2 separate regions of the Homo sapiens genome follow, and region 2 is linked to region 1. The links come from fine-mapping of genetic effects on gene expression. A gene starts in region 1. The other region holds a variant in brackets. All regions are shown on one strand. Distances are between the middles of the regions.

What was found. PIP is the estimated chance that this variant, and not a neighbour inherited with it, causes the effect.
Region 2: its variant is fine-mapped to the expression of PLCG2 in whole blood (TOPMed, PIP above 0.99).

The regions. Positions count from the first base shown.
Region 1 is chr16:81,774,548-81,782,881 of GRCh38, reverse strand. PLCG2 (phospholipase C gamma 2) reads right to left here and starts at 3,591. Exons shown (of 33, transcript NM_002661.5): 1 at 3,458-3,591. LOC105369213 (a long non-coding RNA gene) reads right to left here. Exons shown (of 4, transcript NR_189584.1): 4 at 5,529-5,710. RefSeq lists silencers at 3,286-3,365, 3,376-3,475, 3,506-3,775, 3,804-4,098.
Region 2 is chr16:81,923,124-81,931,457 of GRCh38, reverse strand. PLCG2 (phospholipase C gamma 2) reads right to left here. Exons shown (of 33, transcript NM_002661.5): 22 at 7,864-7,973; 23 at 4,280-4,376; 24 at 2,834-2,900. Among named protein-coding and RNA genes, the nearest start is that of SDR42E1, 84 kb to the left of the region's middle. The variant G/C (reference allele first, on the strand shown) is at 3,275.

The DNA of each region.
Region 1 (8,334 bases):
CTTTGAAAACACTGTATCCCCTCTGATGCTGCAGGGTGGGTGTAAGGTGCAGCAGTAATGTCCATTCAACTGTTGGAGGGGCCCTTACCACTCAAGTATTTGCCTGTGCCCCATTTTAACAGAATCGTTTTGTGGGATTTTGGATGAAATCCTGTACTGGCTTAACATGCACAGAGCACTGAAGAGAAAAACTTCCTTGATTTCTGGTTTGGGGTTCTTGTATCTCACGAAATGCCCTTCTAAATAAGCTTGTGAGATACAAGAACATGAATGAGCTTATGAGATGCAATTGGAAACAGATCTTCACGGCCAAAAGATCCCTGGAGTCCACCATTCAAATCCTGCCAGCACCCAGCTCAGGTCTCCAGCGTTCCACGCTTTATCAACTATGGCAGGGAGGTCTCCAAGACCTTGAGCCCAGGAGAGAGCACCAGCCACCACAGCAACTTCCATTTTGCTTCTGCTTTTTTTGGTTTTTTCAAAAAAAGAAAAAAAAAAGCCTTGAAATCCCTTTTTTGTTCCTGTTTCCCATTCTTAATGGGTAATTCTATAAAATGACTTATTTTGTAAATACAAATATGGCTGAGTTTGAATAACTGATTTTTGCCATTTTTACATTTCATGTCCTTCTAAAGGTTTTTCTTGTATCTCATAAGCTCATTCATGTTCTTGTATCTCATAAGCTTATTTAGAAAGGCATAAAATGGGCCAGGCACGGTGGCTTATGACTGTAATTCCAGCACTTTGGGAGGCCGAGGTGGGCGGATCATGAGGTCAGGAGATCAAGACCATCCTGGCTAACACGATGAAACCCCGTCTCTACTAAAAAAAAATACAAAACAATTAGCCGGGTGTGGTGGCACATGCCTGTAATCCCAGCTACTCGTGAGGCTGAGGCAGGAGAAAGGCGTGAACCCGGGAGGCGGAGCTTGCAGTGAGCCGAGATCGCGCCACTGCACTCCAGCCTGGGCGACAGAGCAAGACTCCGTCTCGGGGGCGGGCGGGGGGGGGGGGGGAAAGGACATGAAATGAGATGCGAGGACCCAAAACCAGAAATCAAGGAAGTTTTTGTCTCTTCAGTGCTCTGTGCATGGTAAGCCAGTACAGGATTTCATCCAAAAATCCCACAAGACAATTGTGTTAAAATGGAGCACAGGCAAATACTTGAGTGGTAAGGGCCCCTCCAACAGTTCAAGGGACATTACTGCTGCACCTTACACCCACCCTGCAGCATTAGAGGGAATACACTATTTTCAAAGGAATGGTGTCAGCCACTGCAAGTGAGAGTGTAAATTCCACCCCTGCTCCTTTAGGGCAACCTGTGAGCAGCTACTAAAAAGCAAAACACGCATATGCTTCGATCCTGCAATTGTACATGTAAAGAAAGACATGCACAAAGATGCAATATGTACGACAGAAAATCACGGAAGCAATAGTTGCAATAGAAATACAAAAAAAGAAAAAAAAACAGAAAACAACTGCTCATCAATGTGGGGGGCCTCCTGGATAAATAATGGTGCACATGCACTGAAGAACGCTCAGTAGCCATCAGAAAGAATGAGGATGATAGATAAGCAATTTGATCTGGAAAGATTTGTGAGGTCAATAAAAAAATAGCTTCAGACAATAGTTGCAACTGTATGAGTATAATACAATTCCCTTTTTATAAAGGTGATCTTCTGGTAAATCCAGGAGAGTGGTTACTATTTATCGGAGGCTGGGAGAGGGTAGAGGATACAACTTGACTTTATTTATATTAACTGATGATGTAACGGGCAAATTTTTCTCTTTGTGTTCTTGCTGTTTTCTAAATTAAGAAGTGTTTGTGTGTGTTTGTTTGTTTGTTTGTTTGTCTTGAGATGGAGTCTCTCTTGTCACCCAGGCTGGAGTGCAGTGGCATGATCTGGGTTCACTGCAACCTCCACCTCCTGGGTTCAAGTGATTCTCCTGCCTCAGCCTCCTGGGTAGCTGGGATTACAGGCGGCCACCACCACGCCCAGGTAATTTTTGTAGTTTTAGTAGAGATGGGGTTTCACCATGTTGGTGAGGCTGGTCTGGAACGCTTGACCTCAAGTGATCAGCCCAGCTCGGCCTCCCAAAGTGCTGGGATTACAGGTGTGAGCCACCGTGCCTGACCAAGAAATGTTTTCAAAAGTTTTCTCACCAGCAGCTTTTCATTGACTCTACCCAATGAGTGCAAAAGGGCTATTCATGGGGTCTGTGCTTTTCCACTTCCAGAGGAACTGCCCATACTCCAGTCGCTGGTGGGGGAAGGCAGCTGCATCATTAGGTGACTTAAACATCAGTGAGGCTCACAATGACGATTGTCCCTGAGCTGGTATACACGTGACTGCACACACACCTTTGCAAGAGAAACTGCTTGAGGCTGGCATAGACTTCAAAATTCTGTAAAACTTCCCCGCAGAACTGTAGTCAAGGACGAGGGCCCATGCCCCAGAGAATGCCCTTGAACCAGAGAGTCAGGAACTGCCCAAGGACTCTCCATGGATGCGCCCCGATTCTCAGCGAACCTCGTGGAACAGCAATAAGCCCCAATTCTCGACACAGCCCTGGAAAATTGGGTGGCTCCAGTATCCAGAGGGGGAAACAGACTCAAAAAGGTTCTTCAACTTGCCCAGGGTCCCACTGATGGAACTGAAATTCAAATTAAGTTCCGACGGGCAAGGCCACCTGTTTCCCTCGCGCCATGTCACCCCTTTACCACCCCGCCCCCCATAGTTTCTCACCCTAGTTCAAGATTAGGGTACCAAGAGAGCCCCGCCCCACCGTCCTGCTGGAATCCAGGAGCTCCCCGTCCAAACGGGGCACGTCTTTAACCTGAACTCTTGCGCTGTGCGGGTAATGCCCTCTTTGGGATTCCAAAACACAACAAAACACAACACGCACAGACACACGCATAATTACGCAGACAGCTGCGGAGCGGGCATCGCGAGTGTCCTGCAAGCTCTCCAAAAGTCTCCGGGAAGGACTGCGCCTCCCGCGGTATCGCTCCCACCCGCCACCCGCAACCACCGAAGTGAGACAGGGAAGTGTGGCTCCGAGCGTCCGCGAGCTCTGGGCACAAGGGCCGTCAAGAGAGACGGCGCCACCCCACGCAGAGCCGCTCGAAAAGAGGAGTTTTGAACGCCAGCCCCCACACGACCCCTGACCTTCCTCCCGGTCCCCATTCAAAGCTGGGGCCGCCCCACCGCACGGACCGGAGAGGTGGCGCCGGCCCGGGGTGAGGAAGTGGCCAGCGGCTGGGCCAGGATCCCTGCCGTCACCAAACGGACCCCGGGCACGGCGGGCCGGGGTCCCCGAGGGTGCGCCCCGTCCCTGCCCGCTCCGGCTGAGCCAGGACGCAGACCCCCTCGGACGCAGCGCCCTGGGAGCCGGTCCCCGCGGGGCGCAGGTCCCTGGGCGCCCTGCCTGCCTCGCTCCCGGCCGGGCAGCTCACCTGGCCGTGCCGCCCGGGCACAGCTGCCCGCCTGCCCCGGGTTTGGGCTCCGGGGTCCCGCGCGCGCAGCCCGCGTCCCGACTCGGGTCACTCAGCGCCGCTCACGCCCTCCGCCGCCGGCGCTCGCTACTTCTGCTTCGGCCGCGGCGCCGCGCCACGTGATCCTCGGGGGCCGCCCCCCGCACCGCCCAGCCTCGCCCCGCCTCGCCCCGCCCCAGGCGCGCCCAGCCGGGTCCGCCTCTCGGAGCGCACCCCGAGTGCAGCGTCCCCGCGCCCTCCCCGCCATGGAGCGGCCCAGGCCTGGAGCCCCGCCTCTGCGTGCCAAAGAAGAAACTGAGGCAACCCGAGGGGAGGCTACCTGCCCGAGGCCACTTGGCCAGGTGCAAAGGGAATTCCCCAATATCATGGCATTCCTGGAGAGCCGGCCGCAGTCCAGGTGTTTGCCGTATACTTAACACACTCCCGGCCGGGCGCCCGGGCTCACGCCTGTCATCCCAGCTCTTTGGGAAGCCTAGACGGGAGGATCGTCTGAGCTCGAGAGTTCGAGACAGCAATGAGCTAGGATGGGTGTGGCCGAGAGACACTCCGTCTCAAAAATAAATAAATAAAAATTAAAAATAAATATACTCTTCACAATTACCCGCCAGGAATTGCCAATTCATGGCCCTAATTTGAAGCCCTCGTTGAGGCTGCGCTGGAGTCAGACCAACCCTTACTGCTACCTTAGGCAGACCACTTAAAAACCGACAGCCTCAGTTTCCCCATCTGTAAAACGTGATCAACATAGTGCCAGCCCCAAAGGGAGTCAGGAGCAAAGAACCCCAGACAATTGATGTCCCGTTTTCCTGATCTCATGGGAAGAAGCTAATATGTTCTTTAAGAAATTTATTTTTCCGTTCGTGTGTTGCATGAAGCTATCTGATTCAAACCCTTCCTATGCTCTTTGATGGAGGTATCTTTGTTGTGACTAGAGGCAGTTTCAGGGGCACCTAGACAGCTGTCAGGCACTTGAATTTCACTTCCAAGTTGCTTGAGTTATAGCTTCTGTTTTCTAAGAGGCAGGGTCTCACTCTGTCACCCAGGCTGGAGTGCAGTGGTGCCATCATAGCTCACCACATCCTCGAACTCCGGGACTCAAGCGATCCTCCTGCTTCTGCCTCCTGAAGAGCTGGGACTATAGAGGCACACCACACTTGGCTAATTTTCTCTTTTTTCGACATGAGGTCTCACTATGTGTCCCAGGCTGTTCTTGAACTCCTGACCTCAAGCAATCCTCCTGCCTCTACCTCCCAAAGCACTGGGATCACAGGCATGTGCCACTGGTCTGTTATAGCGTTTTTTTTGTGTGTGTGTGTTTTTGGTTTTTTTTGTTTTTTTTTTTGTTTTTTTTTTGTTTTTTTTTTTTTTTGAGACAAAGTCTTGCTCTCTTGCCCAGGCTGGAGTGCAGTGGCACGATCTCGGCTCACTGCAACCTCCACCTCCCAGGTTTAAGCGATTCTCCTGCCTCAGCCTCCTGAGTAGCTGGGATTATAGGTGTATGCCATCATGCTTGGCTAATTTTTTGTATTTTTACTAGAGACGCGGTTTCACTATGTTGGCCAGATTGGTCTCAAACTCCTGACCTCAAGTGATCCACCCACCTTGGCCTCCCAAAGTGCTGGGATTACAGGCATGAGCCACTGCACCCGGCCTGTTATAGCGTTTTTTAATTGAGGAATATCACTCTCACTGTCAATGTTGTATCCCAAGCCATAGGACTCGTTTGTGACTTCACAAGATCTGTGGATTCATTTCTTTCAGCACTCCCAACTGGCGTGTATAGCTGTGCTCATCACCACAGATCACTTAACACATCAATTTTTTAAAGAGATCTTGGAAGGACTCATTATGACATCAACCACTTGAAGTCATTGGGCCAATTCCCCAGGAAAAATGACTACATCTAGGGGCAATTCCTTTGCCTCACTTTTTTTTTTTTTTTTTTTTTAGAACTTCAGCTTGTATTTATTTCAACCAATCTTTTTCACACTTTTGTTTTAGTATGTGTTATATAAAGTACATAATATATTAGTTCAGTCATATATATGTATAATTTATTATTACAAAGTCTACATGGATAGGGGAGTGGGTTAAGTCTCTTGATGGCAAAATGAGATTGCATATAATCAGAATGTGTGGAGACCACTCTAGGGAGCCGTGGCTCCTAAAAGCCTATCTTGACAGATGCCAATTCTGGCTGGATTTTTCTCTCATCTGTGGGAAGCAAGCAAAAAAATAAGAACATGAAGAACAGGTTTCTCTGTTTAATCTATGCCTGTGAGCCTATAGTATTTTTGAGTTAAAATGTCCACTGTGTGTGAGATAATGGTCATCGTAAATGGCAGTTTGCTTTTTTTTCTTTCATGTTTTTAATTCATTTTCTTCTTTGGCTCATTTTTTGCTAACCAACCCCTAGCCCAACCCCACCCCCCAGGTGAACGACTGAAGGAATCAGTGGATTGAAAGAGAGTACTGGAGGCCCTTCATCTCTTTCTCAAACTCTAACTTGGTTGTTCAAAATAAAAATAATCTGCCAGGTGCAGTGGCTCATACCTGTAATCCCAGCACTTTGGGAGGCCAAGGCAGGCGGCTTACCTGAGATCAGGAGTTCACGACTATCCTGGCCAACATGGTAAAACACCCTCTCTACTAAAAATACAAAAATTACCCAGGCATGGTGGCACACACCTGTAGTGTCAGCTACTCACGAGTCTGAGGTAGCAGAATCGTTTGAACCCAGAAGGCAGAGGTTGCAGTGAGCCAAGATGGTGCCACTGCACTCCAGCATAGGTGATAGATCAAGACTCCATCTCAGAATTAACAATCGTCGTCATCATCAAGGCGGCAGGCGCTGTTCTGGGAGGACTCTAATGTAAAATGACACTTCTTTTCCCAAGGATAATAGGTGGGGAAGGAACCATTCTGTGTATTCTTTCTTTTCCATGGAATAAAATAGGTAGGGAAAGAAACCACTCTGAGCCGGGCGCGGTGGCTCACGCCTGTAATCCCAGCACCCTGGGAGGCTGAGGCGGGCGGATCACGAGGTTGGAAGATCAAGACCATCCTGCTTAACATGGTGAAAACCCGTCTCTACTGAAAATACAAAAACATTAGCCTGGCCTGGTGGTGGGTGCCTATAATCCCACCTACTCAGGAGGCTGAGGCAGGAGAATGGCCTGAACCCAGGAGGTGGAGCTTGCAGTGAGCCGAGATTGTACCACTGCACTCTAGCCTGGGCAACAGAGTGAGACTCCGTCAAAAAAAACAAAAAAGAAAGAAGGAAAAAAAGAAAGAAAGAGAGAGAGAGAGAGAAAGAAACCACTCTGTGGGTTCAGACATATGAGGTAGAAAGGCCCTGTCACAGGTTAGCTGTCAGAGGGCTAGAGTGGGTTAAGTCAGTGGGTGGTGGGGGCTGGATTTGAACCTCAGCCTGTCTGGTGTCAGAGCCCATGGGCATGCTGACCTGCCACCCATCCCCAGATTAATAAGAGGCATTCAGGCAGGGAGATGTGAGTTTGTAACCACTCTACATAGATGCACAAATGGGTCAGGAAGTGACCTCAAAGGGTAGAGGGATCTTTCTTTTCCTTTTCCTACAAAAGAAAGAAAAAGGGAAGTGGATAGGTAAGAAAGAATAACCTGAAAGAAAATTACATTTTAAGCTGAATCATCTTGACTCTTTGTATTCTGTGTTGCTCACCAGTCCTTGGGCATACAAATGCTTTTCCCTATTACCCTCTTCTCTTTGCTGGCAGCCATGGTGCATTGGACCATTAGCCTCTCTGGGTATCAGTTTCCTCATTATTATACCTATGGGTATCAGAAATGTACCTACATCTGAGGGGGACTGTGAGATGAGGGAGGTAAAGCCCTCATCCCCATGGGGCAAAACCAAGGCTGACTATTTTAGGAATTGTTACTGGGAAGAAGAAGACCTCCTGTGAAAGCATGAACTTGGAAACAAGGAATCTGGGCTCCAGTTCCAAGTCTGCCCCTTCCTTAGTTTTATGGCTGTGGGCTGCTCAGCCACCCTCTTTGGACTTAATTTCCCCATCATAAGACCCACCTATAGCATATGCAGAATTAGCAAATCTACAGAGACAGAACGTAGATCAGTGGTTGCCAAGGACCAGGAAAGCAGAGAGCGGGCCTATCGGAAGGTAAAAGATAAGGGGTACAGGGCTGCTCTTTGGGATGATAAGAATGTTCTAAAATGGATTGTGACGATGGCTGCTCAGCTCTGTGAATGTGCTGAAGCCTCTGTACTGTACACTTTACATGCATGAGTTGCATGGGATGTGAATTATATCTCAAGAAAGCTGTTTTGAAAAATATCTGTGGACTGGGCACATTGGCTCATACCTGTAATCTCAGCTATTTGGGAGGCTAAGGAGGGTGGACCACTTGAGCCCAGGAGTTCAAGACTAGCCTGGACAACATGATGAGACCTCCATCTCTACAAAAAACTTTAAAAATTAGCCAGGCCTGGTGGAGTGAGCCTGAGTCACAGCTACTCGGGAAGCTGAGGCAAGAGGATCACTTAAGCCCAGGAGGCAGAGGTTGCAGGCAGTGAGCCGAGATCATGTGCCACTGCATTCCAGCCTGGGCAACAGAGTAAGACCCTGACCAAAAAAAAAAAAACACCCTTAGAGGGTTATTTCAAACCCAGACCTCCTTTCCCCTCCTCCACCACCACCTCCAAAGGCAGTGACCAGGCTGAGGTCCACCGCCCTGCCCCAGGGAACCTCGCCAACCCTACCCCTCTACCCCCACAGCCAAAATGACCAGAAAACCCCCTGGAGCCCTTGAGTCTAGTTTCCTTTCCCAACATTGTTCAG
Region 2 (8,334 bases), 150 kb before region 1:
TAGAGGGCCACAAAGACCAGACTGCACCCTGCCTGAGCTGTTTCTCTCATGGACCAACCACCACTGCTATGACCACGGTTAGCACTGATGGGGACGTCTACTTTCCATCGGGGTAAGTACACATCACAGATGACTACTCAAGGGATGCAGTAGATTCAGTAGGGTCCTCCGAAAAGATGTGTCAGGTCACCAGTACCTGTGAATGGGACCTTATAGGGTCGTTGCAGATGTACTTAGGTTAAGGATCTCAATATGAGATTATCCTGGATTTAGGGCAATTCCAACATCCAACAAGTATGAGTATCCTTATAAGAGAAAGGAGAGGGACACTTAAGATGCAGGAAAAAAAAACAAACATTAAAATGCATGAGAGAACCTGAAAAAAATACCCTCTTGTCCACTTTAGTTATAGACATGTGTTCGTCTTGATCAAAAGAAACACTGAATATCTTTTTGGTTGACCAATTAGAAAATGCTTTTTACACTCATCATAAATATTTTTTACAAATTACTAAAACAATACATGTTCATTTTAAAAATATTTAAAATATAGCTAAGCAACTTGGCATTTTTACAAAATGTTTACATACAATACATAAAATTTTGTGAACTGTTTCACTTAGCATATTGTGCATAATTTTCTATGTTGTTACATATAATCTTTTACATATAAAGAATAAATAATTTAAATGGCTTTTTTTTTTTTTTTTGAGACAGGGTGGCACTCTGTCACCCAGGCTGAAGTGCAGTGGTGCGATCTTGGCTCCCTGCAGCCTCCACCTTCCAAGTTCATGCGATCCTCCCACCTCAGCCTCCCTAGTAGCTGAGACCACAGGTGCACACCACAAAGCCTGGCTAATTTTTGTATTTTTTGTAGAGAGGGGTTTCGCCATGTTGCCCAGGGCTGGTCTCGAACTCCTGAGCTCAAGCGATCCACTCACCTTGGCCTCCCAAAGTGCTGGGATTACAGGAATGAGCCACCACACCCAGCTAAATGGCTTTAAAAACAGATGCAGACACAAGGGAGAAAGCCATGTGCAGGCAAATGTGGAGACTGAAGAATGCAGCCATGAGCCAAAAACACCAAAGAGTCACCAGAAACTAGGAGAGAAATGTGGCGTGGGTTCTCCAGACACAGAGAAAGGATCTTACAGAGAAGAAAAGATTATGACAGGGAAACTTATCTGCCAAATAATATTAGTAGCTAAGATTTCTGAGCTCTTATATACCAGGCAATATTCTAAGCAGATTACATGTATTGCATCTTTATTTTATTTTATTTTTTTAATTTTGAGCTCTTGCTACATTATCCAGGCTGGTCTCAAACTCTTGGGGCTCAAGGGATCCACCCACCTCAGCCTCCTGAGTAGCTGAGACTAAAGGCACCCTGCTTTTGCTAGGCCCATTTTGCAGGAGGCAAAACTGAGGCTCATTAAGAGAAAGTCACATGTGGAAAGTCATACAGCTAGTAGTAGTAAAACTGAGGCTCAGTTCAAACCTGACTCCAAGATTTCTACTCAGAACCAATGAGCCATGTGCCTCTGCTCTGCAGATACAGGGATGGGGGAAGATGATACAAAGAGCACCAGAAGTGGATGCAGGGATCCTGCACCCCCCTGCCCAAAGGACCTCAGCACATGTGGTGGTCGGTCACTTAGGACCTTGATTTTCCCATCTGGTAATCGGAGCAAAGAATCCCTCTCCTACCTATCCTGCTGGATCATTGTAAAGGTAAAGAAGCAGGTTATAAATGTGGAAAGCAGGCTGGGCATGGTGGCACATGCCTGTAATCCCAGCACTTTGGGAGGCTAAGGCAGGCAGATCACTTGAGGTCAGCAGTTTGAGACCAGCCTGGCCCACATGGCGAAACCCTAGCTCTACTAAAAATACAAAAATTAGCCAGGCACGGTGGCCCATGCCTGTAGTCCCGGCTACTCAGGAGGCTGAGGCAGGAGAATCACTTGAATCCAGGAGGCAGAGGTTGCAGTGAGCCAAGATCACGCCACTGCACTCCAGCCTGGGTGACACAGCGAGACTCTATCGCGAAAAGAAATAATAATAAATGAATGAATGTGTAAAGCAGAGCATTGGCAATAGAAGCAGGAAGTTCCTGGGGCTGCTGTCACCTGAGTCCTAGGGGAGCATGCCCGTGCCTGCCCAGGGAGGGTCATGGGCTGCCCAGAACAAGGAGGCCCGCTACAGAGTCCCTTCACATGGGAGCTGCACCACACCCACTTCAAAGCAGGCAGGCTCAAGACCCAGGAAACCCAGCACACATCAGACCCTGGCCACCACTGGACAAGCCTAGCCTTGGGGCCACGCCTTCACATCCCGTTGCAGCATGGTCAACGTGGGCGGGCTGGGTTTCCTGGGCCCCAGCCGAGCAACCAGGAAGCAGAGGTTCAAAGAGGAGAAGTGACAGGCCTGTAGTCTCACAGCGACAGAGAGGCAGAGCTGGGTTTAGAACCCAAGACTCCCAACTCCACGCTGCATTTCAGCCAGGCTGACAGCTCAGCTTTCCTTCGCAACGCATGGGAAACACAGATGGATCCTGAAATAATAAGAGTGACGCTGGTAATAATATCCGCTAACCACCATCTAGCACTTATGTACGAGACCTTGTTTTAGCACTTACAGTTTTAGTAGAGATTAATAGCAGACATAGCATCATACTCACTGACCAGCCTGACCTAAATACTCAGCTTCAGCCAGGGAAGGAGCTGGCATTCAAGACAGGACCCTGTGTCAGCCACCTCCCTGTGTAGGGCGGGGCTGAGGTCAGCCCATGGGGGATAGGGGTGGAAATCCAGGCTAAGATGATGTGTGCACGTACCGACGTTATAGGTATTGAGGTCCAATATTCCTCTGCAAAGAGACCCTAAGGGATTGTCTTCAATAATCTGTGAAGAAACAAGACATAACTCACGTTAGTTGTAACGGGAATAATAAAAAGAAAACCCGTTTCCAAAGCACACCGTTTAGCAGAGATACTGCCTGTGGAACTGTTTAAAATGCATTTTCATTACCAGATACGTCCATGGGGAGAGAGCTAAATAATGAAGCATGGAGCTGATAGGGACCTGGCGGGGAGAGGGTGCCAGGAGGTTCGGAGTTTCATTTTCCAATCCGTAAAAACGTGCCTTGTGAATTCTAGAACAGGTTTCATAATGCTTCCTCAGATCTGGTTTCCAAACACATCCTAGACTATTTATCTGACCTTATTAGAAAATGAGACTATTTTGCCTACTAAAGCCCGGCTCAAGAACCTTCTGTG[G/C]CTCCCCATGTCCTGTGGAAGCAACACCCATGCTCTATGACCTGGCTTTTAAGACTTTCAGAGCCCCCATCACCCTTTCCAGCTCTGCCTCCCATTGCACCCTTGAACCATCCCAGGGTCTGGCTGAGATGAAGAATATCCTGGGCTTAGGAGAGGTGGCAGAACCAGGCATCCACTCCTTGCCTGCACCACCCCAAACCCCACCCCCTGCACCAGGTAAATGCTGATGTACAGGTAAGGGCAACTCAGTACAGAGGAAGCAAGGGCTTCCAGTCTCTGCCTCAGCCCAAGCACACGGAACACAACCACATTCCCACTGCCACACCTTTGCTTAGACTGTACCTCCCACTTGCACCTCTCTTCTGCCAGTCTCTTGCTGTTGAACTCTAACTTGACTTTTAAGGGTCAAATACTCCTTCCTCCAGGAAGCCTTCCCAGATTGCCCTACATCCCTTAGAAAATAAACACCTGGGGGTCTAACGGGATCTTAAAATCCTCATTACAAAGATATCATCCTTGGTGGAGTGCTAGCACGCTGAAAGTGGCTGCTCTCTAAACAAGAGGCGGCGAGGGAACAACCACCAGGTTTGCAAAGTCACCAGGAAGGCCTCATCTCACCTCTGGTTAGGCCCACTTGCTTACTCGCCCCAAGCACGTTCTCAATGTCTGGCTGTCCAATATAAATGTGTTTCATCTGCAAGTTGCTTAAGCAAAGGACAAATTCCCCATTTGGTCACTTTCACTCCAGCGGGAATTCTCCTGCATAATGAAATCCTTCCAAGCCCAACACAACCTGATTAAAACACGGCCGGCTTGTCACAGCAACTCACCCACAACAACTCAATCTCAATTTCCCTATCATCACTGTGTCTTCCCTGATCCAGAGCTCCACAGAGACCACAAGCAGCACATGGAAAAATTCACCCACTGAGATGGCACAGCTCCCTGAAAAACTGGACCTGCAGATCCCTTCTTCCTGTAAGAGGATCGAAGAGGGGGACTCACCTGCTTTTCTAGCTCCTCGAAGTCTGCAGTTGAGATGTCCTCGACGTAGTTGGATGGGAAGTACTGCTGGATCCTGGTTCCATAGTCTCCTTTCCACCTGGATAAGAAGAGAGGACATGGGGGCGCTGTCACCAGGTGGCATGAATTACCCACTACTGCTCATCTGCACCCGGCTGCTGGCTCAATTCTGATGGGGACAGACAGCAAGTGGCCAAGTGACCAGTGTCACTATCTGTGACAATGGAGCATCTCAAAGGCAACTGCTGTCTTTTTATTTTTTAATTACTAATGAGTTACTGGGGGCTGATTTTACCCCCATCACATGATCTTAATGTTTAATCAAAGATCACAAGTCAAAAGTTTCCATGCTTTACGTGGAAGTCAGAGACCATACAAGACAAAAGTTCACCCCTATTTCGGGGAGGTTGTGAATTTAGAGAGAAGGTGGTTCTGGAGGCAGACAGGCTGGAATTAAACTCCAGCTCTACCACTGACGGTGGAGGCTTTCTGTGCCTCCAACTCTCCATCTGAAAAATGCATAAACGTGAGTGCTTCCCTCAGAGGGTTTTATTAGGACTCTAAATTAACATAAGCTGAGTGCTTGGGACAGCGCCTACCTAGTACACAGTAAATACTCAATAGTGTTAGCTCTTATTATTATTCAGCTAAAACATTGTTCCCTATCTTTATAACAACACTAACAACACGGGACATAATCCATCTATGAATGTTCCTGGACCCCACCAGACGGTGAGCACCTCTAAGATTCCTCCCGGCAAGGCCGTGCCCAGACATGCAAACGCCCTCCTTCAACCTGCCCATCTCTTGAGCTATTTTCCGCAGCCAGGGACTCTCCAAAATGCACCTCTGACCACACCACATGATGGCTCCCCAGGGCCTCCAGAATCCAGCCCAGACTCTTCAACATGGCAGCCACGGCCCAGCACAGTCTGACCCCAGGACTCCCAGACATCACCTCCTAACTCTCCATGATGTTGACTCCAGCTGGCCCGTCGTCCCTATCATGCCCCTGCCATGCTGCCTAGCTTCCATGCCTTGGCCCATGCCCTTGGTACCCAACTTCCCCCCACTAATTTAAGACTCAGCTTGGGCATTTCCTCTCCCACGGAGTCTTCCCTGACTGCCCCCTAGGCTGAGCACTCTTCCTCTGTGGTCCCCTGGCATCCTGTCCCCACAGTCATCCAAGCAGCCACATCTTATACTTAACGTATAATTATACATCTGTCTTCCCCTCTATATGATATCCTTCTGGATTTTTTTTTTTTTTTTTTTGAGACAGAGTCTCACTCTGTCCCCCAGGCTGGAGTGCATGGCACGATCTCAGCTCACTGCAACCTTCGCCTCCCAGGTTCAAGCAATTCTCCTGCCTCAGCCCCGCCAGTAGCTGGGATTATGGCATGGGCCACCATGCCTGGCTAATTTTTGTATTTTTAGTAGAGACAGGGTTTTACCAGGTTGGCCAGGCTGGTCTCAAACTCCTGACCTCAAGTGAGCCACCCGCCTCGGCCTCCCAAAGTGCTGGGATTACAGGCGCAAGTCACTGCACCCGGCTGACCTTTCTGGATCTTAATCAAGTCTGTGCTCCGTGGTGGTGGGAAGAACTTAACAATTTTTTGGTCTGAATAAGCAGAGTGAGGACTGATGCTACCAATTCACCTAGCAGAGACACAGGACTGCGGGTTGTAAGCCCTTTTCACGCCCCCCCGCACCATTTCTCCAGACCCACTTCTGGCAAGGGCTGGCTGTATTTACGGCGATCATATATACCATCTGTCCAGGACTGAGCACTTTACATTCTCTTCACTCTCAGGAGCATCTTGGTTCAGACAATAATTGTTTGGTCCCCTAGCTACAGGGAACCAGTTTGGAAGTATGCAAAAAAGCCGGTTTCACCCAGGCGGCCCCCTAGGTAGCACTACTGCCATCAGAGAGAGGAATTGACCACAGCCGCTGGGCGGTTTGCCCACAGTCCCTTGCCAAAGGGACTTCTGACAGTCTCTTAAGACAAGAGCCTTCGAAATTCAGAGAACTGCCTGTCAGAGGCATAGAAAGGCATGAGGCCATCTCACACAGAATGGAAAACCGTGATTTGGAGTAGTCACCTGGGCTCCAGCCACAACTCCAAAAATGTTGTTAGTCACCCACCCAGTGCGCACCAGGATGTTGACCAAGGCAGGGACAGGAGCCCAGTGAGGGAACGCCAGTGTGCCTGGAAGAGACCTCAACTCTGTGCCACTTCGAGTGGAGGGACTTCGGCAAAGCCGAGCCTCTGAACTGGGAGAAGCAGACGGACAACACTGTGGTTGCCCAACTGGGTCTGGGAGCCTCCAAGGGGAAGCATCAGAGGCTGCAGTAGGAACAGCAATGTCAGCAAGGAGGCCAAACAGGGCAATTCTACGCCCCCACTCCAGCTCAATGGGTAACTCGGCTGCATCTTTGATTCTGTGGAATCTAGGTATGAATTGGTTTGCAATGAGGTTCTCCTGATTTTAAGAAAAAGTTTGATAATCCCTGGATTAAGGCATCTTGCAAGAGGACAGGGAAGGACTTAGCAGATGAATGGAGTTAAGAGTGTAAGCTCTGGAGTCAAAAGGCCTGGCGGTTCAAATCTCAGCCTGCTATGTGGCCCTGGACAAGTGACTGCACTTCTGAAGGCTTCAGTTTCCTCATCGGTAAAATGCAGGTAACAACAGAACCAACCTTTTACAGTCATCATGTAGACTCAGTTATTTCAAATGAAGTGAGTTATTTCAAACGTGCTTAAAACAGTGCTTGACACATAGAAGCACTCCATGCATGCTGCTATTCAGATTCCTAAGCCAGGTCCAGTTATCTTGTGGGAGGCAGAAATGCCAGTCTATGAGGTGCTTAAACCAGTGCTCACTATTATGAGCAAGTTCTTATTGCTCTCAGACAGAAGTCACCCCACAAAACCACTTCCCCAGAAACCTATCAGTGGGCAGTGAATTTTTCTTCTAAGGTTAAAAAGCGAAGTGGTAACTAAACCCTAGCATACCCAGGTACCTTTGCACGAAAAACGTATTGTCTTCAATTCAGGATGTGGCCATTGCACACAGCACGGGACTATGGAACAGCATACGAATTTGAATTGGAAATAACACACAGTCTTGTGTATTGGAAAGCGCCTGCACTATTTAGTATTTAGTATTTATTTGTGTGACTTGGAAAGTCTCATTTGCCGCATCTTTTGTCACAGGGAGTAATGAAGATTTGGTTGAAGATTTGGTTAGACAATGCATGGAAAGCAATTAGCAGACTGCTTGCCACTTAGAAAGACTTCAATAAATGGTAGCTGCTGTTGTAATTATAATAATATACAATATATGATATGATATGTCGATACCTGTTAATATTGTTGTTTATCCATTTTCTCAAATAGAGCATGCACCAAGCCACCTTCCTAAGAAGGGACTTAACACAAGAGGTCAAAGCCAGCCCAGGATGACAAAGGGGGTCAGACTTGGCCAGCACCTGAGTCTTATCACCAAGAAGGGACAAGTCAAGCCCACCTGCCGAGCAGCCCAGCCTCCACTCAGCCTTACCAGCCCCCGGGCTCCTTGGAGACATTGTGGATGAGGGCACCACGGCAGAAGCTCAGCTCATCGCTTCGCTTGGCTTTGTAGTCATACAGAGCTTTCACGGTTCTCTGAGGCTTTCAGGGAAAACAAGAAGGAAAAGGTCAGGCCAGGGACAGGAGGGGAGGGAGGCGGCTGCGTTCCCAGGTACCATTTGGTTCTTCTCATTGGGGAGCAGGAGGCTTCAGGCCAAGGTTACAAAGTCATCTGCTGGAGAGGGACTGGCATTGCAAAGGATCGAAGGCCCCAAAAAGCCACCAGGGAGTGAAGGAGAACTGGCCTAGTCAGAGCCAAGGGTACCTGGGTTGGGGTTAAGGGTTAGGGGTTAGGAGTTAGGGTTTGGGGCTAGGGTTTAGCGCTGGGGTTAGGGTTAGGCTTAGGGTTAGGGTGGGAGTGACCCTATATTGTAGTGACACAATATTGCTCAATTTCCTCAAC